3 linked regions of the Homo sapiens genome follow. The protein of the gene in region 2 purifies or fractionates together with the protein of the main gene of each other region. This does not show direct contact. Each region holds a gene or a part of one and is shown on either strand. Other genes may lie near its edges. The genes, in order: OXSR1, RPAIN and PDXDC1.

Evidence for each region.
Region 1: the proteins of RPAIN (region 2) and OXSR1 purify together in Homo sapiens (affinity purification with mass spectrometry; one large-scale study listed by BioGRID and IntAct). This does not show direct contact.
Region 3: the proteins of RPAIN (region 2) and PDXDC1 purify together in Homo sapiens (affinity purification with mass spectrometry; one large-scale study listed by BioGRID and IntAct). This does not show direct contact.

What each region holds. Positions count from the first base shown.
Region 1 is NC_000003.12:38,168,437-38,172,087, reverse strand, and holds part of OXSR1 (serine/threonine-protein kinase OSR1), read right to left. Parts: intron 1-3,651. UniProt on the Homo sapiens protein: Effector serine/threonine-protein kinase component of the WNK-SPAK/OSR1 kinase cascade, which is involved in various processes, such as ion transport, response to hypertonic stress and blood pressure.
Region 2 is NC_000017.11:5,426,552-5,430,202, reverse strand, and holds part of RPAIN (RPA-interacting protein), read right to left. Parts: intron 2,133-3,651; coding exon 1,992-2,132; coding exon of another isoform or gene 1,926-1,991; exon of another isoform or gene 542-1,925; intron 1-541. UniProt on the Homo sapiens protein: Mediates the import of RPA complex into the nucleus, possibly via some interaction with importin beta.
Region 3 is NC_000016.10:15,030,457-15,034,107, reverse strand, and holds part of PDXDC1 (pyridoxal-dependent decarboxylase domain-containing protein 1), read right to left. Parts: intron 2,374-3,651; coding exon 2,202-2,373; intron 1,248-2,201; coding exon 1,129-1,247; intron 831-1,128; coding exon 709-830; intron 1-708.

The sequences.
Region 1 (3,651 bases), on a different chromosome or scaffold from region 2:
TAATAACAACTATCATTTTATACAAGCTAAACACTTCCCACAAATAATTACACTCAATCTATATAACGGCCCCAGTGACATAGGTACTATTCTCCCCACTATACAGACAAAAAGCTGACACGGAAACTAATCATATAATTTGTCTAAGATCACATAACTAGTAAGAGGCAATGTCAGGATTTGAATCTGGGTCAGTCTAACCCCAAAGCCCAAATTTTTACAGCTGCTTCAACACATGCCAAATACAGTATAACACATGCTCAGAAATTCTAATCTAAGACTAAGGGCTCAAAAATACTGAAAGATCAATGATTAATTGTGAGAATGATACTAACATCTTTTACACATAATCATACTTAAAGAACTTCAAATCTTGCCAAAGCATGCTTAAGGTGATACAATTCTTTAAAAAAAAAAAAAAGTCCTTTGAATTTTCAATCTATAGGCTTTTAATATGTTCCTAAGAGGAGATTCTGTTCTCTGTAGGATTTTACCAGAAAGACGAAGAACAAAACAGAATGTGAGAAACAATCCCATAAATAGTATACTGCTGAGAAGCAAATGTGAAAAAAATTACAGTTCAAATAAACATGTTACAGTTCAAATAAATGTACGTGTTTTGATGGAGATGACACCATTACACTGATTTCTCTAGAATACAATCCTTTGAAAACAAAATTTAAATGATCCCAAACCCTTTTTTCTAGATTTTAATCATGTGTTTCCTGAAAAAGTTGAGTGTAATCTGAAATCATAAAGATTCATTTTGAAGACTATAGCTTATTATAAAATACTATGTAACAAACATTTTGGTATGGAAGCAAAGTTAGAATAAGAATACAATGCTTTACTGAAACTTGCTACTTATACTAGGCTGTAGCTCAAAGAAAAAAAATTTTTTTTCTCCCTGTTGGGAAAATGGAGAGAGGCTGTCAGGAGCAGACTGGAAGGACGTGACAGGTGTGGAACATCCATCAGATTTTTTTCACTCTAAGGATAGATACTTCCCTTGGCCAGGCACAGTGCTTCATACCTGTAAACCCCAACACTTTAGGAGGCTAAGGTGGGAGGATCACTTGAGCCCAGAAGTAGAGACCAGCCTGGACAACATATGAGACCCTGTCTCTACAAAAAAATAAAACAATGAGGCGGGCATGGTGGCACATGCCTGTAGTCCAGCTACTGGGGAGGACGAGGCAAGAGGATCACTCGAGCCAGGAGTTCATACAGTGAGACAGTGAGCTGTGATTACATTCCAGCCTGGGTGACAGAGTGAGACCCTTCTCAGAAAAAAGCAGGGGAGATCATTCCCTTAATCTGTGAGACAATGACCCCCATCTTCCAGTTTATATCCAAGAACGAATCAATGTAGATACAGGAACAAGGATCCCGAATTAGGCTACAGGAGACACAGATGCCAGTATTGGCTCTGCCTCTAATTAGCTACATGGCTTTAAGCAGTCATGTTACCTTTCTGTCTCTGTGTCTTCAACTGTAAAACAAGGTGGTTCACCTTACTTCACACCATACACAAAAATTAACTCAGTATGTATCAGAGGCTTAAATGCAAGAGCTAAAACTAACACTTAAAAAAAAACAGGAAAAAAAAATCTTCACAATGTTGGGTTAGTAAAGATTTCTTAGATACAACACCAAAAGCAAAATCAATAAAAGAAAAAAATGATAAACATCAAAATTCAAAACTTTTGTACTTTAAAAGACTCCATTAAGAAAATGAAAGAGGCCAGGCGCGGGGGCTCACACCTGTAACCCCAACACTTTGGGAGGCCGAGGCAGGCAGATCATCTGAGGTAAGGAGTTCGAGACCAGCCTGGCCAACATGGTGAAACCCAGTCTCTACTAAAAATACAAAAACTTAGCCTGGTGTGGTGGCACGCATGTGTAATCCCACCTACTTGGGAGGCTGAGACAGGAGAATTGCTTGAACCCAGGAAGCGGAGGTTGCAGTGAGCCAAGATCATGCCACTGCACTCCAGCCTGGGCGACAGAGTAAGACTCCAACTCAAAAAAAAATAATAATAATAAAATTAAAGAAGGCTAAGCGCAGTGGCTCACGCCTGTAATCCTAGCACTCTGGAAGGCTGAGGCAGGCAGATCGCTTGAGCGATCAGGAATTTGAGACCATCCTGGGAAATGTGGCGAAACCCAGTTTCTACAAAAAACACAAAAATTAGCCAAACGTGGTGGCATGTACCTGTAGTCCCAGCTACCTGGGAGGCAGGGGTGGGAGGATCACTTGAGCCCAGGAGGTGGAGTGAGCCCTGATCATGACACTGCACTCCACCCTAGGTGACAGAGTAAGACTGTCTCAAAAAAAAAGAAAGAAAATGAGAAGAAAAAAAAAACTACAGACAGGAAAATATTTAAATTAAATCATATATCAGATGAACGACGCATACCCAGAATGAATACACATACAAACACACATACACACACTTCTATAACTCAAAAAAAAAACGAACAGCCAGGCGCAGTGGCTCACCCCTGTAATCCCAGCACTTTGGGAGGCCAAGCAGGCGGATCACCTGAGGTCAGGAGTTTGAGACCAGCCTGCCCAATATGGTGAAACCCCATCATTACTAAAAACACAAAAATTAGCTGGGCATGGTGGCAGGCACCTATAACCCCAGCTACTCAGGAGGCTGAGGCAGGAGAGTTGCTTGAACTCAAGAGACAGAGGTTGCAGTGAGCCGAGATGGCACCACTGCACCCCAGCCTGGGCAACAGAGCAAGACTCCATCTCAAAACAAACAAACAAACAAAAAAAAAAACAACCCAATGGGCAGTCCAAGTGGACAAAAGATTTGAATAGATATTTCACCAAAGAAGATCCATGAAAGTCTAATAAATAAGGACATGAAAGGATGTTCATCATCATTAGTCATTAGGGCAATGCAAATCAAAACCACAATGAGATACCACTTCATAGTCACTAGGATGGTTACACGCAAAAAGACAACAAATTTAGAGAAACAAGAACTCTTATAATTACTAGTAGGAACATAAAATGGTACAGTTACTTTGAAAATCAGTTTGGCAGTTTCTTAAACAGTTGAATTTGTGATATAACCCAGCAATTCCACTCCTGGGTATACATCCAAGAAAAATGAAACATATTCATGGGGTGACTTGATGTGAATACTCAAAGCAGCCTTGTTCCAAACAGCCAAAAAGCAGAAACAATCCAATGCCCATTAACTGGTATCCAATAAAAAGGAACCATGTACTACATGGCAGATGGATGAACCTCAAAAAGCATTATGGAAAGTAAAAGAAGCCAAACACAAAGGACCACATATTATATGATTACATTTACATAAAATGTCCAGAAAGGACAAATCTATAGAGACAGAAAGTATATTTGTGATTGCCTGGGGCTGGGGGTGGGAACAGGGAGTAACTGCAAATGGACATGAGGCATCTTTCTGGAATGATGGAAATGTTCTAAAATTGGATTGTGGTGATGACTGAACAATTATGTAAATTTACTAAAAGATTATTGAATTGTACATTTTAATCAGGTAAATCTTATGGTACGTAAATTATATCTCAAAATTGTTTTTTTAAATGAAAAAATATTTATGCTAAGTGGAAGAAACCAAACATGAAAGACCACATGTTATATGATCC
Region 2 (3,651 bases):
GTGAGCCACCGCACTCAGCCACCAATTCTGTTTTTGAGACAGAATCTCACCCTGTTGCCCAGGCTGGAATCCAGCAGCACGATCTCAGCTCACTGCAACCTCCGCCTCCCGGGTTCAAGCGATTCTCCTGCCCCAGCCTCCCGAGTAGCTGAGATTACAGGCACCCACCACCATGTCCAGCTAAGTTTTGTATTTTTAGTAAAGATGGGGTTTCACCATGTTGGCCAGGCTGGTCTTAAACTCCTGACCTCAGGTGATCTGCCCACCTCGGCCTCCCAAAGTGCTGGGATTACAGGCGTGAGCCACCGTGGCCAGCTGAGACTGGCCAATTCCTTGTGAGGAATCAGGCTGAATGAAGTACACGGCATATTGTAGTGCTTGGTAAATATTTGTGCAAATGATCCTTAAATGTAGTGGGAGGAGTCAAAGTCATTCAGACAGAACAGCCTAAACAACAGCACAGAGGCCTGAAAGCACTGCATATTTGAGCATCTGCTACCAGTGCTGGATAGCTGGAACAGAAGGGAACATATGCTTGTAGTCAACAGGAAGTAGTGAGGGGTTTTATTTAAACTTTCACCTGCTATGTCTCTTTCCATACAAGCTGATGGAAAATGGCATCCTTCCACCAAGGCCTGAGCCTGGAGCAGGAAACAGCAGGGGCACTGGAACCACAAAGACCTGGGGTCTAACACCAGCTCTATCGCTTATTAGTAGTAAAATTTTGGCCAGATTACATCACTTCTCTGAATCTGTTTCCTATTCCTAACAGGAACTATCCTCTCCCTCATGAACCTAATGCTCCAGCTAAGTAGAACAAGATGCTCTTTGTATATACTCCAGTTTCCTGCTTCTCTGCCTTGTTCTTCTATGTGGGGATCTTCCACTTAAGCTCTACCCCCACAACTCACCAGATCTCCATGTCTGTCCAGATCGATTCCATGCTTCAAGGCCAAGTTAAATGCCTCCTCCAGGAAGGTGTCACCATAAAGGAGATCACCCTCCTCTGAACTCCCATAAGCCCTCCTTGTACAGCTCTCCAGGGTACTGCCTGTTTATTCTGTTCTCTTATTACCAACCCAAGGCTTGAGCTCTGTGAGAGATGTGTATTTCTCAATGTTAATGAGTCCTCAATTCATTTTTTTTTTAATGAATGAGTAGAATACCTATGGAAGAAACTTGATAAAGGTGAAATGGCTGTTACCAGGCAATGCTGCTTATAATAAAAATGACCTCTGTAGGTTAACTGCATTTGGAATGACAGGGCCATGAAGGAATTCTAAATTCCCAGTAGAAAGCCATGGCTATGAACTTCCTGAAGTACAGTGTGCTCCTAATCCCAAGGCTCCCCCTGCCTGGGATCTAAAAGCAATAATAATACGTATCATATTGGTTTTATGTGTGTTTGTGTGATATATATACACATGTACATACATACATACACATATATGGAAAGGACATGGATTATAAGAGATATTGGTTCCTATAGCACGCTTCTAAGACAGGTGGTTCCCTTACCCACTTGTGTTCCTGGCCCTCACACCTCAGTTGTCACTCAGGTTAGCGAATAGCCCTTGGACCTCTGTAAAAACTCCACTGACAGACAAACCTAATGCTGCCCTGCTATGCTTCTGCCCTGTTTCCTTCCGCAAAAGTGGTGCCAGCATGGCCTATCTGGGTCTTATGACTATGAAATGACCAGCTGAATCCAAAACCACTACTACTGATCAAAGAAGAGCAGGTGTGGAGCCAGGCGTCCTAACTCCCAGACCAATCCTCTTGCCGTGATCCCATGCTGCCTCTTCCCTTCTTTCTGACTGGCCTTTGAGTCTAAATGACTTGTTACCTTCACTTTTCTATGCAGGTAAATTCCTCAGATAATAAACTGCATTAAACATTTACCTGTTTATAGGTCATTATTTCTATCAAGGTGGGAATAAAACCAACCACAGGTCCCTCTTACCACAGAGTGGGTCCCAGGAGACGCTTACCAGACAGCTCATGAGAAGACTGGACTTTTCTTCTGTTCCTCCAGTGACTGAAAATTCAGGTGTGTGGGGACAATGTGCACTGTGCTCATTTATACTACCCTCTAAACAGGCACGAAGCTTCTGCTCTGTCAACTCAGAAGACTACAAAATAAAAAAGTTCAACCTCCTCTCAGTGACTTGATAGCCAACAGATGGAAAATCCTCATTCCTCATGCCAACCAATATAACCGTGGCTCACTGTGATGGCTTGACTCCTTGGAGCCTTAAAGACACTCGGGCCCATGACTGTACCAAGATCTCTTAACCCATCTCCATTTAACTGCCTCTCCAGATTAACCAACGCCCTCTACTCCTGCTGTCAAACACACTGATGGCCACTCATGGCAGGAAGAACGCTCAGAGATTGTAGGCTACTTTCCAGCCTCCCTCTGCCTCTGCCCCCACCAGCTGAGTGCATCCTTACCAACAACTAGCAGTATATGCTCCCGGGTCTGCTTGGGTTACTTGAACTTCCTACTGTAACTCAGTAATGCTAATTACTTATTATGTAAATAATAAGTTTTATTTTTATAGTGATAAGTAGAATGTTTAGGAAACAAACAGATGAGCTGCTTAAAAAAAAAAGAAAGAAAGAAAAAGAGCTATAGAATTAGGTAAAAGATGGGGAGGAAAAATTCCTAAGTTGTATACTCAGTTTCTTGATCCACTTTATGGAATTAAAACCGGAAACTCTGGACTATGTATTATAGAAGTTGTTTATGTAAAAAAGGTGACTCAGCGAGGCACAGTGGCTCACGCTTGTAATCCCAACACTTTGGGAGGCCAAGGTGGGCAGATCACCTGAAGTCAGGAGTTCGAGACCAGCGTGACCAACATGGTGAAACCCCGTCTCTACTAAAAATACAAAAATTAGCCAGGCATGGTGGCACGTGCCTGTAATCCCAGCTACTCAAGAGGCTGAGGCAGGAGATTCGCTTGAACTCGGGAGGTGGAGGTTGCAGTGAGCAGAGATCACACCACTGCACTCCAGCCTGGGTGACAGAGTGAGACTCTGTCTCAAATAAAATAAAAAATAAAACAGGTGACTCAGCTCTCCAATCAGCAGGGCCCCACTCAAAGGCTGGCAAATAAATTTATGTGTTTGAAACTTACCATAAAACATTTTATTTTTATAATTTGCCTCTTTAACCAATCGCTCAATTAACTGGCAAACTTGCAGTCCCCATCATGCCAGATAAAAGGGCTTTTTCTGTATTTTAAGATTACTGAAGGCCGGGCGTGGTGGCTCACACCTGTAATCCCAGCACTTTGGAAGGCTGAAGTGGGTGGATCACGAAGTCAGGAGTTCGAGACCAGCCTGGCCAAGATGGTGAAAACCCATCTCTACTAAAAATAAAAAAAAAATTAGCCGGGCGTGGTGGCAGGCACCTGTAATCCCAGCTACTTGGGAGGCTGAGGCAGGAGAATGACTTGAACCCGCAAGGCAGAGGTTGCAGTGAGCCTAAATCACGCCACTGTACTCCAGCCTGGGCAACAGAGTGAGACTCCGTCTCAAAAAAAAAAAAAAAAAAATTACTGAAGCTTAAATTCTGAATTAGGTATGTCTTCATATATAGAAAATTTTTATGAAACGTCAGATACAGGCGTTACCAATCCCAAG
Region 3 (3,651 bases), on a different chromosome or scaffold from region 2:
TAGGCAGACACACCTTGGTGACCAGCCTCATTTGCTACGTATTCTTGAAAACAGAGAAGTCATAAAGTCAGGCTGGAAAGAAACCTTAAGGAGTCCACCCAGAAAGGAATGAAGCTGGCTTCTCGGCCGCATGTCCAATGGCTCGTGTCTCTCTCCTTTCAGAGCAGTCTTACCTTGGTCCCTCTTCTCTCCTTTTGAGTGATTTTTAGGGAAGTAATCATCTGTTTGGAGGATACCTTATCAGCCTTGTATCCTGGTCCTCCATGCTAAGGGACCCACAGCAGTAGGTCTATTCCTGGTGGGAAGTGCTATAGGGAAGGGGTGTAGGGGGAACCACACATACAACAGCCCATTTCATTCACCCTCAGGACACAGCTCCAGAGCAGAAGTCCTCCCTGACCTTGGTGGCAGGGGTGAATGTGTCTGCCTGAGTGTCCAGCTACCCGCCCTCTTCTCTAAGGCAGGGTTACTACACAGCGTGGCTATGTGGATCTTTCCCCCTGAGCTTGTGAGATCACTGGGGCATGGGCTGTGTCAAACCTACTTGGCATCTCTGACACCTGGCACAAGGCCCAGCTTACAGGAAACATTGACAGACTTTGAGAGACAACGAACAGACATCCCAAGGGCAGCTGCTTTCCTCGTGGCCCCTGCTGTTTGGTGGGACAAAACTCAGAAGAGGAATGAACACTGATGGGTGCTACGGACCCTCGAGTTCTCCTCTATCTCCCGGGCTGTGGCCGCAATGGTCTCCACGAGCTCAGCAGCATCGACGTTGTCGCTCGCCATGCCGACATAAAGGCAGCTCTTCATGCTCTTATACTCAGGGCCTGCAAAGGTAACGAGACAAACTTGAGTTTCTCAGTCCTCTGTCATGGGTGAGACGTGGACCTACTCTCCTGTTCAGGGTCCTGACCACACACAAAGGGGTCTCCTCCATGGAGATTCTAAGGGCGGAGAGAAAGGCCTGGCAAGGCTGCAGAAGGGGAGGGAGGTCTCAGAACCGCATCTTCGCCTGGAACCCAGCCCGAGAGGCGCTAGCCCGCTAAGGGATGAGCCGTCGTCTTCAAAGCCGGTTACCAAGTGTCCTTCCAAACCCCACAGCTGACTTACAAAGTAAGCAGTTACCTATTTTAAAGGTTAGGTCAGATTCCAGTTCATTTAACTTCTTCAGGAGTCCAGCATGGATGTTTTCCCCTTCGGGATCTGATTTCAAACTGCTCTTATCATCATTAGCATGTTCATACCTAAAACAACATCAAACCACAGCATTTCAGCTTAAAAGATCAAATGTCTCTTCTGATACAGGATTAGAAACCTCTAAATATTAGCAAGACAATGCAGTGGAACCAGTGGGCAAAAGAGCTACTGCGAGTGTCTCCAGACCACAAACTTTCTGGAAGTGTGCCAGGAGTAAAGAGAAAGTCACAGGAAAGCCTTTTTTTTTTTTTTTTAAAGCAGGGTCTCACTTGGTGGCCCAGGCTGGGGTGCAGTGGCATGATCTTGGCTCACTGCAACCTCCACCTCCTGGGCTCAGTTGATCCTTCCATCTAAGCTTCCCGAGTAGCTGGGACTACAGGTGTGCACCACCACCTCTGGCTAATTTTTGTATTTTTTCTAGAGATGGGGTTTCGCCATGTTGTCCAGGCTGGACTCAAGCTCCTGGCCTCAAGTCATCTATGCTCCTGTTGGCCTCCCAAAGTGCTGGGATTACAGGCATGAGCCACCGTGCCCAGCTGAAAGCCTAAGTCTTTAGTTCCATACAAGGTCTGGAAGTCTCATGGGCAATACAAAAAGAGGTTTGCCTCACCTCTGAAGGCGAGAAAGCAGCCATAGGACTGCACCCAGTTCTCTCCCCGAGAGCTGGGTTCTTTTTCTTACTGATTTGCAATTCTCTATATGCCCTGGATAGTAACCATTCTCAGTGAGTGATATATACCTGTTGGCATCTTCTCCTAGGTAGCTGAGAGTCGGCACCTACAGACAGAACATTCAGCAACTCCCCTCCCTGAGCGCCACGCTGGCCAAATTGCCTGCTTGCACTGTGCTTTTGTAAATGCCCAGAAAACCGAGTTGCATTTTCGTTAAGCATATTGTGACTACACGTTCATCTTGGATTTCTAAGGTGGTTCAGAAAATGACCCACTCATGTTCTTTATACAGAAAAGTCTCCAACATCAAGCGGCAGGCCAAGACTTTACCTGACAACCCCTATTCCAGACCAGTTAGGGTCATCAACATATAGGAGACCTGCTGTTGCTTCCACTTCCTGCTTGAACTCTTCACGCAACTGGAGCGTACAGCACAGCACTGGCAGTTTGCTTTCTATGCAGGCTACGAGCTGATCCACATCCTCTCCCCGAGTTCCTAAAACTGAAGATGTTCACAATGTCAGAGAAATGCTCACGAGATGGCCAATGACAAGAGGGCAGGGCTCCCTCTTCCACTACTGGGAAGGTCAAAAGCTCGAGGTACTCCAGTTACCGGGAGCCATGGAGATTTAAACAAAAAAAGGCCCTCAACACAGATATGGAAGAATTAGGGTTAGAAACAGACACAGCTGGCTGTAGCAGGTGTGGAGTGTTTCTCTCACAGATGTGGCCCACAATGACATACTCCAGTGTTAGAAATCACTCTTCCCACAGCAAGCCTACTTCAGGCAGGCTGGAGACATCACACCATAGGTTCAGCACAAAAAGGCAACCACAGATTCTGTACATTCCTATGACTGAGAGAAAGGGAAGTACTGTGGTGGGCTGCTGTCCCCACACAGGAAGGACAGGGAGATGGTGACAGCGCCGGGCCTCAGGGCTCACTGGCTTACTTTTGCAGTTTTAGAGACTAAGTATCTAGAGCTGTGGCCAGGCAATCCTTATAGTGGCCAGTGCTTTGGGAATCTGAGCCAGGAGGATCACTTAAGGCCAGGAGTTCAAGAGCAGCCTGGGTGACAGAGTGAGACCACGTCTCTATGGAAAAAAAAAAAAAAAAAAAAAAATAGATGTGGTGGTGCTCGCCTGTAGTCCCAGCTCCTTGGGAGGCTGAGGCAGGGGATTGCTTGAGCCCAGGAGGTCGAGGTTGCAATGAGCTATGGTGAAGACACTGCATTCCAGCCAGGGTGACAAATGAGACCCTGTTTCTAAAAAAAAAATAAAAACCAAAACACAGATCCCCAGGCTCCATTCTAGAATCTCTGGGGGTGGGCGGCCACTGGTTGTGTGTAAAGCTCCCGGATGACTCTAATGTGCAGTGGGGAGTGAGAACCCTTGTAGTGGAAAATCGAGAGTCACAAGACATCAAAATATAGGAATTCCAGCCTGGCCAACGTGGCAAAACCCCATTTCTACAAAAAATGCAAAAATTAGTCCAGTGTGGTGGCTCATGCCTGTGGTCCCAACTCCTCGGGGGCTGAGGTGGGAAGATCACTTGAGCCCAGGAGGTCAAGGCTGCAGTGAGCCATGATCGCACCACTGCACTCCAGCCTGGGTGACAGAGCAAGACCCTGTCTCAACAACAACAAAAAAGGAATTCATGTGATGACTTTTTTTTTTTTTTTTTTTTTTTTTGAGATGGAGTCTCCTCTGTCCCCCAGGCTGGAGTGCAGTGGTGTAATCTCAGCTCACTGCAACCTCGGCCTCCCAGGTTCAAGTGATT